3 linked regions of the Homo sapiens genome follow. The protein of the gene in region 3 purifies or fractionates together with the protein of the main gene of each other region. This does not show direct contact. Each region holds a gene or a part of one and is shown on either strand. Other genes may lie near its edges. The genes, in order: RABL6, AP3S2 and AP3M1.

What was found.
Region 1: the proteins of AP3M1 (region 3) and RABL6 purify together in Homo sapiens (co-immunoprecipitation; 4 studies listed by BioGRID and IntAct, with this or other methods). This does not show direct contact.
Region 2: the proteins of AP3M1 (region 3) and AP3S2 purify together in Homo sapiens (co-immunoprecipitation; 4 studies listed by BioGRID and IntAct, with this or other methods). This does not show direct contact.

What each region holds. Positions count from the first base shown.
Region 1 is NC_000009.12:136,838,915-136,841,805, forward strand, and holds the end of RABL6 (rab-like protein 6), read left to right. Parts: coding exon 1-207; intron 208-307; coding exon 308-572; intron 573-779; coding exon 780-951; intron 952-1,239; coding exon 1,240-1,298; intron 1,299-1,407; coding exon 1,408-1,608; 3' UTR 1,609-2,273; downstream 2,274-2,891. UniProt on the Homo sapiens protein: May enhance cellular proliferation. May reduce growth inhibitory activity of CDKN2A.
Region 2 is NC_000015.10:89,873,391-89,877,141, reverse strand, and holds part of AP3S2 (AP-3 complex subunit sigma-2), read left to right. Parts: exon of another isoform or gene 1-349; intron 350-3,751. UniProt on the Homo sapiens protein: Part of the AP-3 complex, an adaptor-related complex which is not clathrin-associated. The complex is associated with the Golgi region as well as more peripheral structures.
Region 3 is NC_000010.11:74,130,078-74,133,828, reverse strand, and holds part of AP3M1 (AP-3 complex subunit mu-1), read left to right. Parts: intron 1-3,751. UniProt on the Homo sapiens protein: Part of the AP-3 complex, an adaptor-related complex which is not clathrin-associated. The complex is associated with the Golgi region as well as more peripheral structures.

The sequences.
Region 1 (2,891 bases), on a different chromosome or scaffold from region 3:
GGAGGCCCTGGGCGGCAACCCGATGGTGGCAGGGTTCCAGGACGATGTGGACCTCGAAGACCAGCCACGTGGGAGTCCCCCGCTGCCTGCAGGCCCCGTCCCCAGTCAAGACATCACTCTTTCGAGTGAGGAGGAAGCAGAAGTGGCAGCTCCCACAAAAGGCCCTGCCCCAGCTCCCCAGCAGTGCTCAGAGCCAGAGACCAAGTGGTAAGGGCAGGTGTCCCCACGGGTGCGGCCTGGAGACCCGGGTGGGGCAGTTCAGGACGCCTCCAGAGGACCCTGACTGACCCTCTGCTTGTCCACAAAGGTCCTCCATACCAGCTTCGAAGCCACGGAGGGGGACAGCTCCCACGAGGACCGCAGCACCCCCCTGGCCAGGCGGTGTCTCTGTTCGCACAGGTCCGGAGAAGCGCAGCAGCACCAGGCCCCCTGCTGAGATGGAGCCGGGGAAGGGTGAGCAGGCCTCCTCGTCGGAGAGTGACCCCGAGGGACCCATTGCTGCACAAATGCTGTCCTTCGTCATGGATGACCCCGACTTTGAGAGCGAGGGATCAGACACACAGCGCAGGGCGGTAAGACGAGTCCTCCCGGGGCAGAGGTCAGCCAGGTGGCCAGGGTCCCTCCCACAGGCCTGATCTGGGTGGGTGCAGTGGGAGGAGGCTTCTGGAAGAGGCATCTCATGTCCCCACACTTGGGCCTTGCCGGCCTGGTTTGAGATCCCACAACCCCTGGGGGTGTGGGAGGGATGATGGCCTGACCAGTTGCTCTCCCTGCTCCAGGATGACTTTCCCGTGCGAGATGACCCCTCCGATGTGACTGACGAGGATGAGGGCCCTGCCGAGCCGCCCCCACCCCCCAAGCTCCCTCTCCCCGCCTTCAGACTGAAGAATGACTCGGACCTCTTCGGGCTGGGGCTGGAGGAGGCCGGACCCAAGGAGAGCAGTGAGGAAGGTGGGTGGGGGCACCAGAGTGCGGTCAGCCTGCTGGAGTTTGGGTAGAACGTGGGCCTCCTCCCAGCTGCTGGCCGCTGGCCGGGGTCCTCTCCTGAGTCCAGGATGCTGTGCCATGCTCCTGGCAGCCCCCTGCAGGAGCTGATGTTTGCAGTGTGGTCCTGTCCATCAGCAGGGCCTCCTGGAGGGCTGGGGCTCGCTGCTTTGTGAGTTTCTAGAGAAGTCCTGTCACCCAGCTTGGGGTCCCCGTTGGCCTGAGTTTGAGCCACTGTCTGTCCTGTCTGTGCAGGTAAGGAGGGCAAAACCCCCTCTAAGGAGAAGAAGAAGAAGAAGAAAAAAGGCAAAGAGGTACTGGCTACTCCCCTTCCTGGCAGGCCAGGACTGGGTGGCATGCGGTCCTGGGACCAGGGCTGTGGCTTCCTGTGACTCCATGGCGCCCCATCCTTGTGCTCCTCAGGAAGAAGAAAAAGCTGCCAAGAAGAAGAGCAAACACAAGAAGAGCAAGGACAAGGAGGAGGGCAAGGAGGAGCGGCGACGGCGGCAGCAGCGGCCCCCGCGCAGCAGGGAGAGGACGGCTGCCGATGAGCTGGAGGCTTTCCTGGGGGGCGGGGCCCCGGGCGGCCGCCACCCTGGGGGTGGCGACTACGAGGAGCTCTAGGCCGGCGTGGGCAGTGGCCGCCCTGGGGCGGGGGGCGTGCCTGTCACTGCCTGGGGAGGCATTTGCCTCTGTACCATCGCCTTTGCCGCTGCCCCGTGGCTGCCGTGTGCGCTTCTGAGCTGGAAGAGGCCGGGCATTGGTGGTCCCCAGGCTGGGCCCTGCAGGTGCTGGGCCTTCAGGCCCAGTGTGAGCCTGCTCTGCAAGAAGGGAGGGGACAGCTGGCTTCAGCCAGGCTCGGTGGACACCCTGGCCCTCTCGGGGCAGAGCCGCCAGTGTTTCTCAGGGATGTGACTGAGGCCCAGGAGGGACCTGTGAGGGTCTGTTTACAGAGGCTGGGCAGGGGCCGCTTGGCTGTGGGGTGTGCGCTGCCCCGGCACCTGCTTGCCCTCCGCGCTCATCTGGGGCCGCAGCATGCCTATGGTTCCGCTTCCGGCCGGGAGCCCTGAACACGGGTGTGCAGACTCACCCTAAAGGGCGGCCCAGGCCCCACGCTAGAAGGCTGGCGAGACCGAAGGCAGCATGTGAGGCCTCTCCTGGGAGTGGGGGTTGTGTTTCCCACAGTGGCCTCAGCTGCGCCCCCGCTCAGGTGAGCCCGAAGGCAGGAGCCGGGAGGCACTCCTCCCAAACACTCCACTCAGACCATAAAGCACTCCTGTTTCACTCTGCGTGTGTCTGTTCTTCTGCCTGTACCTCTGCTCCCGCTGCCCCGGGCCCAGGCTGCCGTGGGTTGGCAGGAGGCTGCCCAGCAGTGGTGTGAGGACGTCCCACCAAGTCTGGCCACACCCTGGGTACATTCCAGCCCACCTGTGCCAGGGCTCAGCAGCTGCACGCAGCACGCTTGGCGACCTCAGCCCCAGGAGGTGGAAGTCCACTCTGCAAGGCTCCCAGGCAGCCGCCTGCAGCCCTGCCCCCCGCCTTCAGGCTCCTGCCCCCTCCAGCTGTCAGCAGCGCCCAGCCTCCACCCCCACAGCTACTGTTGCCATGAGAACCCTGCAGGGCAGGCAGGAAGAGTGTGCCAGTGAAGGGGAGGAGGTGGCCAAGCTGGAGGCTCCTCTGCCTGGGAGCCTTGTGGCCCCAGGGTGTTGGGCAGTCACTGCAGTCCCTGAGCAGGTGCTGTGGCCCACAGCAAGCTTAGCCTGGCCCCTTAGCCCACAGCCCATGAGGTCAGGGCCGGGTTCAGGGGTTCGCCTGGTGTGGGGATGGGTCGACAGTACGTGAACTTGACAGGATCACACCATGGACGGCTATGTTGGGGTTTCAGTGGGCCCTGCTTTGAACAGTGC
Region 2 (3,751 bases), on a different chromosome or scaffold from region 3:
AAGTGAGCTACATCTAGCTTCATCTTCACTCTTAATACCCACTAATTTCCATATATATGACATTTTGGTCCTTGTTTCCCAAAGTCATAGTTCAGCAGACGGGGAGTTTGCCCAGTTTTTCTTGCCTTGACTTTTTTCCTCTTGTTCAGCAAATTTCACTGGATTTCCAGCTGCTGTGTCATAATCCCTAGGTACAGCTGTTCTGTCTCTGCCAAAGCTGTTGCTTGCAGGGCTCCCATTTGAGCTGCCATAGCTATCTGAGTTACTGGCATTCCTGATGCCAACAGGGCAGCAACATTGAGAACAAAATCTCTAGTAACTGGAGCTATTTCTTGTTTTTGTTTTTCAATGATTTCTTTTTCTTTTAAAAAATTTTTTCCCAACACCCATCCCAACTATTTCTTTTTCTTGCTGTTCTTGTAATTTCTTTGCCTAGTCCATCCTCCCAGCTAAAGCTTCTTATGCATCCTTTGCTGTGCCTCTGCCTCTGAAGAGAGATGAACTGGAAATCTGGCTTAAACTTCTGCTAAATCTTAGTTTCTCAATGCTCTTCTTTCTCTCTTGTCTTCTGCTTCCTGTACTACTTCTGCTTCTTTCCTATGCATGTCATATTTATTTATTTACTTATTTTTCACACGCAACACAGATGTAGTTTTTATCTTGAACAGGAGCAAGATCTGATCCATGGTTTTCTTTCTTTCTTTTTTTTTTCTTTCCTTTTTGGAGACGGCGTCTCACTCTGTTGGCCAGGCTGGAGTGCAGTGGTGTGACCTCAGCTCACTGAAACCTCCACCTCCTGGGTTCAAGTGATTCTCCTGCCTCAGCCTCCCAAGTAGCTGGGACCTCAGACATGCATCACCACGCCTGGCTAATTTTTGCATTTTTAGTAGAGACAGGGTTTTGCCATGTTGGCCAGGTTGGTCTCAAACTCCTGAATCTCAGGTGATCTGCCTGACTTGGCCTCCCAAAGTGCTGGGATTACAGGTGTGAAGCACCATGTCCAGCCCATGGTTTTCTTTTCCTGCTTCTAGATCATGATCGTTCTTCTCTCTGCTTCTGGATTGAGACTACTTCTTTTCCCTCTACTACGATGATGCCTTTCACGAGACCTGTATCTTGAGTGACTTCTGCTTCTTGATGGCTTTCTTTGTGTTTGTGTCTGTCCTCATCATTTTCAGATGAATGTATTTATTTATTGAGACAGCATGTCACTCTGTTGCCCAGGCTGGAGTGCAGTGGCACAATCACAGCTCACTGTAACCTCTGTCTCCCCGGCTCAAGCTTCTCACCACAGCCTCCCGAGTAGCTGGAATCACAGGCACACACCACCACGCCTGGCTAACTTTTGTGTTTTTTATAGAGACAGGGCTTTGCCATGTTGCTCAAGCTGGTCTCAAACTTGTGAGCCCAAGCAATTTGCCCACCTTGGCCTTCCGAAGTACTGAGACTACAGACGTGAGTCACTGCGCCCAGCCCATTTTCAGATGAATTTAGTCCCTCTCTTCCTTTATCAGAATAATGTTCTTTGTCATTATGCTCCTCAGAAGTGTATTTCTTAGAGGATTTGTTGTAGGATTCCTGTCTTCTTGCCTCATCATGAAATAGGCTTATTATTTTCCTACCTGAGTCTGCAATGTCTTCAGTTCAGCCTCTTTGCCCATCAGCATGCGCTTTGTGTTTTCGTCCTTCGTTTTCTTTCTTGTTTTCTTTCTCTTGACCTTGATTGTGATCTTGAATAATATTTTGAGTAAGAAAAACAGATGCATCTGACAGTTCTTTTTCCACCCACTATCTGGGGATGTCTTTTTCTGGGGCTAGTCCATCTTGTCCTGGATAACTACCCTATCTTGAGAACCCAGTCTTAGTTTCATGAAACATCTTTAATGAAAACAGCCTTTTGGGATGGTGCTGCTGCAAACTGTGGTCTGGCTCTCCTCGCATGTGCTCTGGCTGCCGCAGAACAGAGCTCAGGCCGCTAGGGGGCACCTCCACGTGCCGCTTTTAGCAGTACCAGCCACCTCAAAGCTTTGCCACAGACTGAATAGCTCCTTCCGGGGGCCTGGATGGCACCCAGGGGATCTGCCGTTGCTTTTTTAATTTATTTTTTTACATTTAGCTCATTAATATCTGTTAGATATTTTTATGTCTGCATTGAAATATGTAACTTTATTTTTCCCCCAAAGGATAACTGTTCCAACATTATCAGTTAGCTTGTCTTTTCCCCACCAACTTAAAATACGACTCTTATTTTTAAAATTGCATTTTATAAACATGTATGTTTCAGTAATTTATATTCTGCCCCACTGATCTATATTCCCATCTTAGAATTATACTTTTATTTTATTTTTAAAATTTATTTAGAGACAAGGTCTTGGTATGTCACTCAGGCTGGAATGCAGTGGTGCAATGATAATTCACTGCAACCTTGAATTCCTGGGCTCAAGCAATCCTCCCACCTCAGCCTTCCAAGTAGCTGGGACTACAGGTGTGTGCCACTATGCCTGGCTAATTTTTTTATTTTTATTTTTTTGTGGAGACGATGTTTTGCTATGTTGCCCAGGCTGGTCTCAAACTCCTGGGCTCGAGGGATCTTCCTGTCTTGGCTGCCCAAAGTGTTGGGATTATAGGCATGAGCCACCTCACCCAGCCTTAGTATTATACTATTTTAGTTAACAAAGCTTTACAATGAATTTTGATACCTAGAAAGACTGCACCCAGGTGAAATAAACAGCCTTGTTTCTCACACAAAGCCTGTTTGGTGGTCTCTTCACATGGACACGTGAGACAGATTTCGCTAGGGAAGCAAATAACCATGGAGGTGGGCAAGAAATATCCATGATTGTAGAGCTTTCAATCAGCCTTTTATTCTTGTAACAAATGAAAAACAAAGGATTATCAGACATCTGCGGAAAACCTCTAACATAGAAGAAGGAGATAAAATGAACAAACAATAAAAAGCAACTTAAAAATGGACACCATATAAAGAAAGGAAAACAGTTTAAAAAAAAAAAAAACCCAAAACCCTATTCTTAAGCTACAGAGAAAGCCTGGCCAACATGGTGAAACCCTATCTCTACTAAAAATACGAAGTATTTTAGCCAGGCATGGTGGCACATACCTGTAGTCCCAGCTGCTCAGGAGGCTGAGGCAGGAGAATCACCTGCACCCGGGAGGCTGAGGCTGCAGTGTTCTGAGATCACACCACAGCACTCCAGCCTGGGTGACAGAGTGAGACCTTGTCTCAAAAAAAAAAAAAAAAAAAAAAGCCACAGAGAAATAAGACATTTATTTTAAATAATAATAAGACCCATTTATTAATTAGAAATAAAATAAGACCCATTTATGTCTTATTGCTAAATGGGTGCTAAACAAAAACACTCACAGCCTTGTTGCTCACACAAAATGAACAAAATGGTCTCTTAGAAATAAAAAATGAGAGGAAATGGAAACAAACAAAAACCCACTTCAACTGAAGTATTAGAAAATCAAGTTAATCAATTGTCTCAGAATGGGCAGAGATGGAAAATGGGAGAGAAAAGATGAGAAAATAAGACAGAGGCCGGGCACAGTGGCTCACGTCTGTAACCCCAGCACTTTGGTAGGCCAAGACAGGGGGATCACTTAAGGTCAGGAATTGGATATCAGCCTGGCCAACATGGTGAAACCTCGTCTCTACTAAAAATACAAAAATTAGCCAGGCGTGGTGGTGCATGCCTGTAATCCCAGCTACTCAGGAGGCTGAGGCAGGAGA
Region 3 (3,751 bases):
CAAAAAATTAGCCGGGCATGGTGGCGCGCACCTGTAATCCCAGCTACTCGGGAGGCTGAGGCAGGAAAATTGCTTGAACCCAGGAGGCAGAGGTTGCAATGAGACAAGATCATGCCATTGCACTCCAGCCTGGCTCTGTCTCAACAAAAAAAAAAAAAAGAAGAAGAAAGGAAAAGAAAATTGAAGTCCTTTGGCAGTATGGTTTCGGTGGAAAGGCATTCATTATCTGATGATTTTTAAATCTGTTTGTTTATTTATTTATTTATTTGAGACGGGGTCTCACACTGTTGTCCAGGCTGGAGTGCAATCACATGATCTTGGCTCACTGGAACCTTCACCTCCTGGATTCAAGCGATCCTGCTGCTTCAGCTTCCCAAGTAGCTGGGATTACAGGCATGAGCCACCACACCTGGCTAAATTTTTTTTTTTTTTTTGAGACGCAGTTTCACTCTTATTGCCCAGGGTGGAGTGCAATGGTGCAATCTCAGCTCACCGCAACCTCCGCCTCCCGGGTTCAAGCAGTTCTTCTGCCTCAGCCTCCCGAGTACCTGGGATTACAGGCATGCACCAGCATGCCCAGCTAATTTTGTGTTTTTGGTGGAGATGGGATTTCTCCACGTTGGTCAGGCTGGTCTCGAACTCCTGAACTTAGGTGATCTGCCCGTTTCGGCCTCCCAAAGTGTTAGGATTACAGGCGTGAGCCACCGCTCCCGGCCCTGGCTAATTTTTTGTATTTTTAGTAGAGACGGGGTTTCACAATGTTGGCCAGGCTGGTCTCAAGCTCCTAACCTCAAGTGATCCACCTGCCTTGGCCTCCCAAAGGGCTGGGATTACAGGCGTGAGCCACTGCACCTGGCCCATAAATCTGTTTATTTTGCCCATAGGTTACATATAATTTTCATAACCACTAGTTGAGGTCTGCCAAACATGTAAATCAGAACTCATAATGCCTTACTTTAAGCCAATTATTACCCTATGTACCTCTACCTCTTGCTATTTATTCCTTCTAACATTTATTGAAAATCTGCTATATACCATGCTTTTGCTACTACATTATGTGCAGTACTTCTGGTAAAAGCCCCTATCTGATTATTTTTCACTTTCTTTTTTTTTTTTAAGTACAGGGTCTTGCTCTTTTGCCTAGGCTGGAGTGCATTGGCGCAGTCCCTGCTTACTGTAGCCTTGACCTCCAGCTCATGTGATCCTCCTACCTCAAACTCCTGAGTAGCCTATAGTCCCAGCCAATCAGGAGGTACACGCCACACGCCACCATGCCTGGCTAACTTTTATTTGTTTTTTTTGTACAGACAGGGTCTCACCATGTTGCCCAGGCTGGTCTTGAACTCCTGGGCTCAATCAGTTTACCTACCTCAGCCTCCCAAAGTGCTGGGATTACAGGCATCAGCCACCACACCCAATCTGATTATCTTTTTAACCAGACAAAACAATAGTACTCTATAAGAATCGTAAAATTTTATTATTAAAAATAGCAGCCGGGCATGGTGGATCACGCCTGTAATTCCAGCACTTTGGGAGGCCGAGGCAGGCAGATCACTTGAGGTCAGGAGTTTGAGACCAGCCTGGCCAACATGGTAAAACCCCGTCTCTACTATAAATACAAAAATTAGCTGGGCGTGGTGGCAGGCGCCTGTAAACCCAGCTACTTGGGAGGCTGAGGCAGGAGAATTGCTTGACCCTGGGAGGCAGAGGTTGCAGTGAGCCAAGATTGCACCACTGCACTCCAGCCTGGGTGACAGAGTGAGACTCCATCTCTAAAAAAACAAAAAAAGAAAAAAGAAAAAAAATCTAGTCCTTCCTTTACATTTATTTTACACATAAGGAAAGCCCAGAAGGGTTAAGTGAACTGTTCCAGGTCACACAACTTGTTAATATGTAATGATGGCTTATTGTGAATTATAGTCAATATCTTCTCTTCCATGAGTCCCCTTTTCATTATAACATTCCATCTTATAGAATAATAGATTTTTGCCAGGCACGGTGGCTCACACCTGTAATCCCAGCACTTTGGGAGGCTTAGGCAGGAAGATCACTTGAGCCCAGGAGTTCAAGACCAGCCTAGGCAACATAGCAAGACCCCATATCTATCAAAAATTTAAAAGATTAGCTAGGCATGGCTTCCTTAATCCTACCTATTCAGAAGGCTGAGGCAGGAGGATTGCTTGAGCCCAGGAGTTCAATGCTGTGGTGAACTATGTTCACACCACTGTACTCCAGCCTGGATGGCAGAGGGAGACCCTGTCTCTTAAAAAAAAAGAGATATCTTTCTATTATGGATCCTATTTCTTAAAAGTTAACTTAGTCCATTTCATAATACACTTGCCACATTTTAAAATTCTATTGAAGCCGGGCGCGGTGGCTCACACCTGTAATCCCAGCACTTTAGGAGGCTGAGGCGGGTGGATCACGAGGTTAGGAGATCCAGACCATCCTGGCTAACACAGTGAAACCCCATCTCTACTAAAAATACAAAAAATTAGCTGGGTGTGGTGGCAGGCGCCTGTAGTCCCAGCTACTCGAGAGACTGAGGCAGGAGAATGGCGTGAACCCGGGAGACAGAGCTTGCAGTGAGCCCAGATAGCGCCACTGCACTCCATCCAGCCTGGGTGACAGAGCAAGACTCCGTCTCAAAAAAAAAATTAAAAAAAAATAAAATTCTATTGAAAATGGTTTTGGTTGGTTTGTTTTATTTTGTTTTTGAGACAGAGTCTCACATTGTCGCCCAGGCTGTAGTGCAGTGTTGTGGTTTCAGCTCACTGCAACCTCCGCCTTCTACGTTCAAGCGATTCTCCTGCCTCAGCCTCCCAAGTAGCTGGGACTACACGCACACACCACCACGCCTGGCTAATTTTTTGTATTTTTAGTAGAAACGGGGTTTTGCCATGTTGCCCAGGCTGGTCCCAAACTCCTGAGCTCAGATAATCTACCCACGTCAGCCTCCCTAAGTGCTAGGATTACAGGCATGAGCCACTGCGTCCTGCCAAATGTTTTAAACTCATATCCAGTCATCTTACAGGGTTGGCTCCATAAAGGAAACAGTTTAATTTTCCTTAGAATTAGCATATTCTGGCTGGGTATGGTAGCTCACACCTGTAATCCCAGCACTTTGGGAAGCTAAGGTAGGCGGATTGCTTGAGCCCAGAAGTTTGAGACCAGCCTGGGCAACATAACAAGACCCTGTCTCTACAAAAAAAATACAAAAATTAGCCAGGCGTGGAGGTGCATGCCTGTAGTACCAGCTGCTTGGGAGGCTGAGGTGGGAGGATTGCTTGAGCCCAGGAGGTTGAGGCTGGCTATCATAGCACCACTACGCTCCAGCCTGGGTGACAGAGCAAGACCCTGTCTCAAAAAAAAAAAAATTATATTCTACAGTGGCATACCTGTAGTCTCAGTTACTCTGGGGACCAGCTGGGACTAGCTAGTCAGACTTTATCTCTTAAAAATAAAAGAATTATTATTATATTCCAGCCAGAGTTAAGTATGGACCTTGTCCCCTGACCTGTTAATAGAGATGTAAAGCTTCAGTTAATCTGACACCCAGAGGGTATCTCTATTGTTCTAGATGTAGTGATTGTTGGGCTAGGTGTCATGGCACGCACCTATATTCCCAGCTATTTGGGAGGCTAGGGCAGGAGGATTACTTGAGCCCAGGAGTGAGGCTGCAGTGAGCTATGATCATACAACTGCACTCCAACCTTGGCAACAGAGCAAGACTCTGTCTCTAAAAACAATA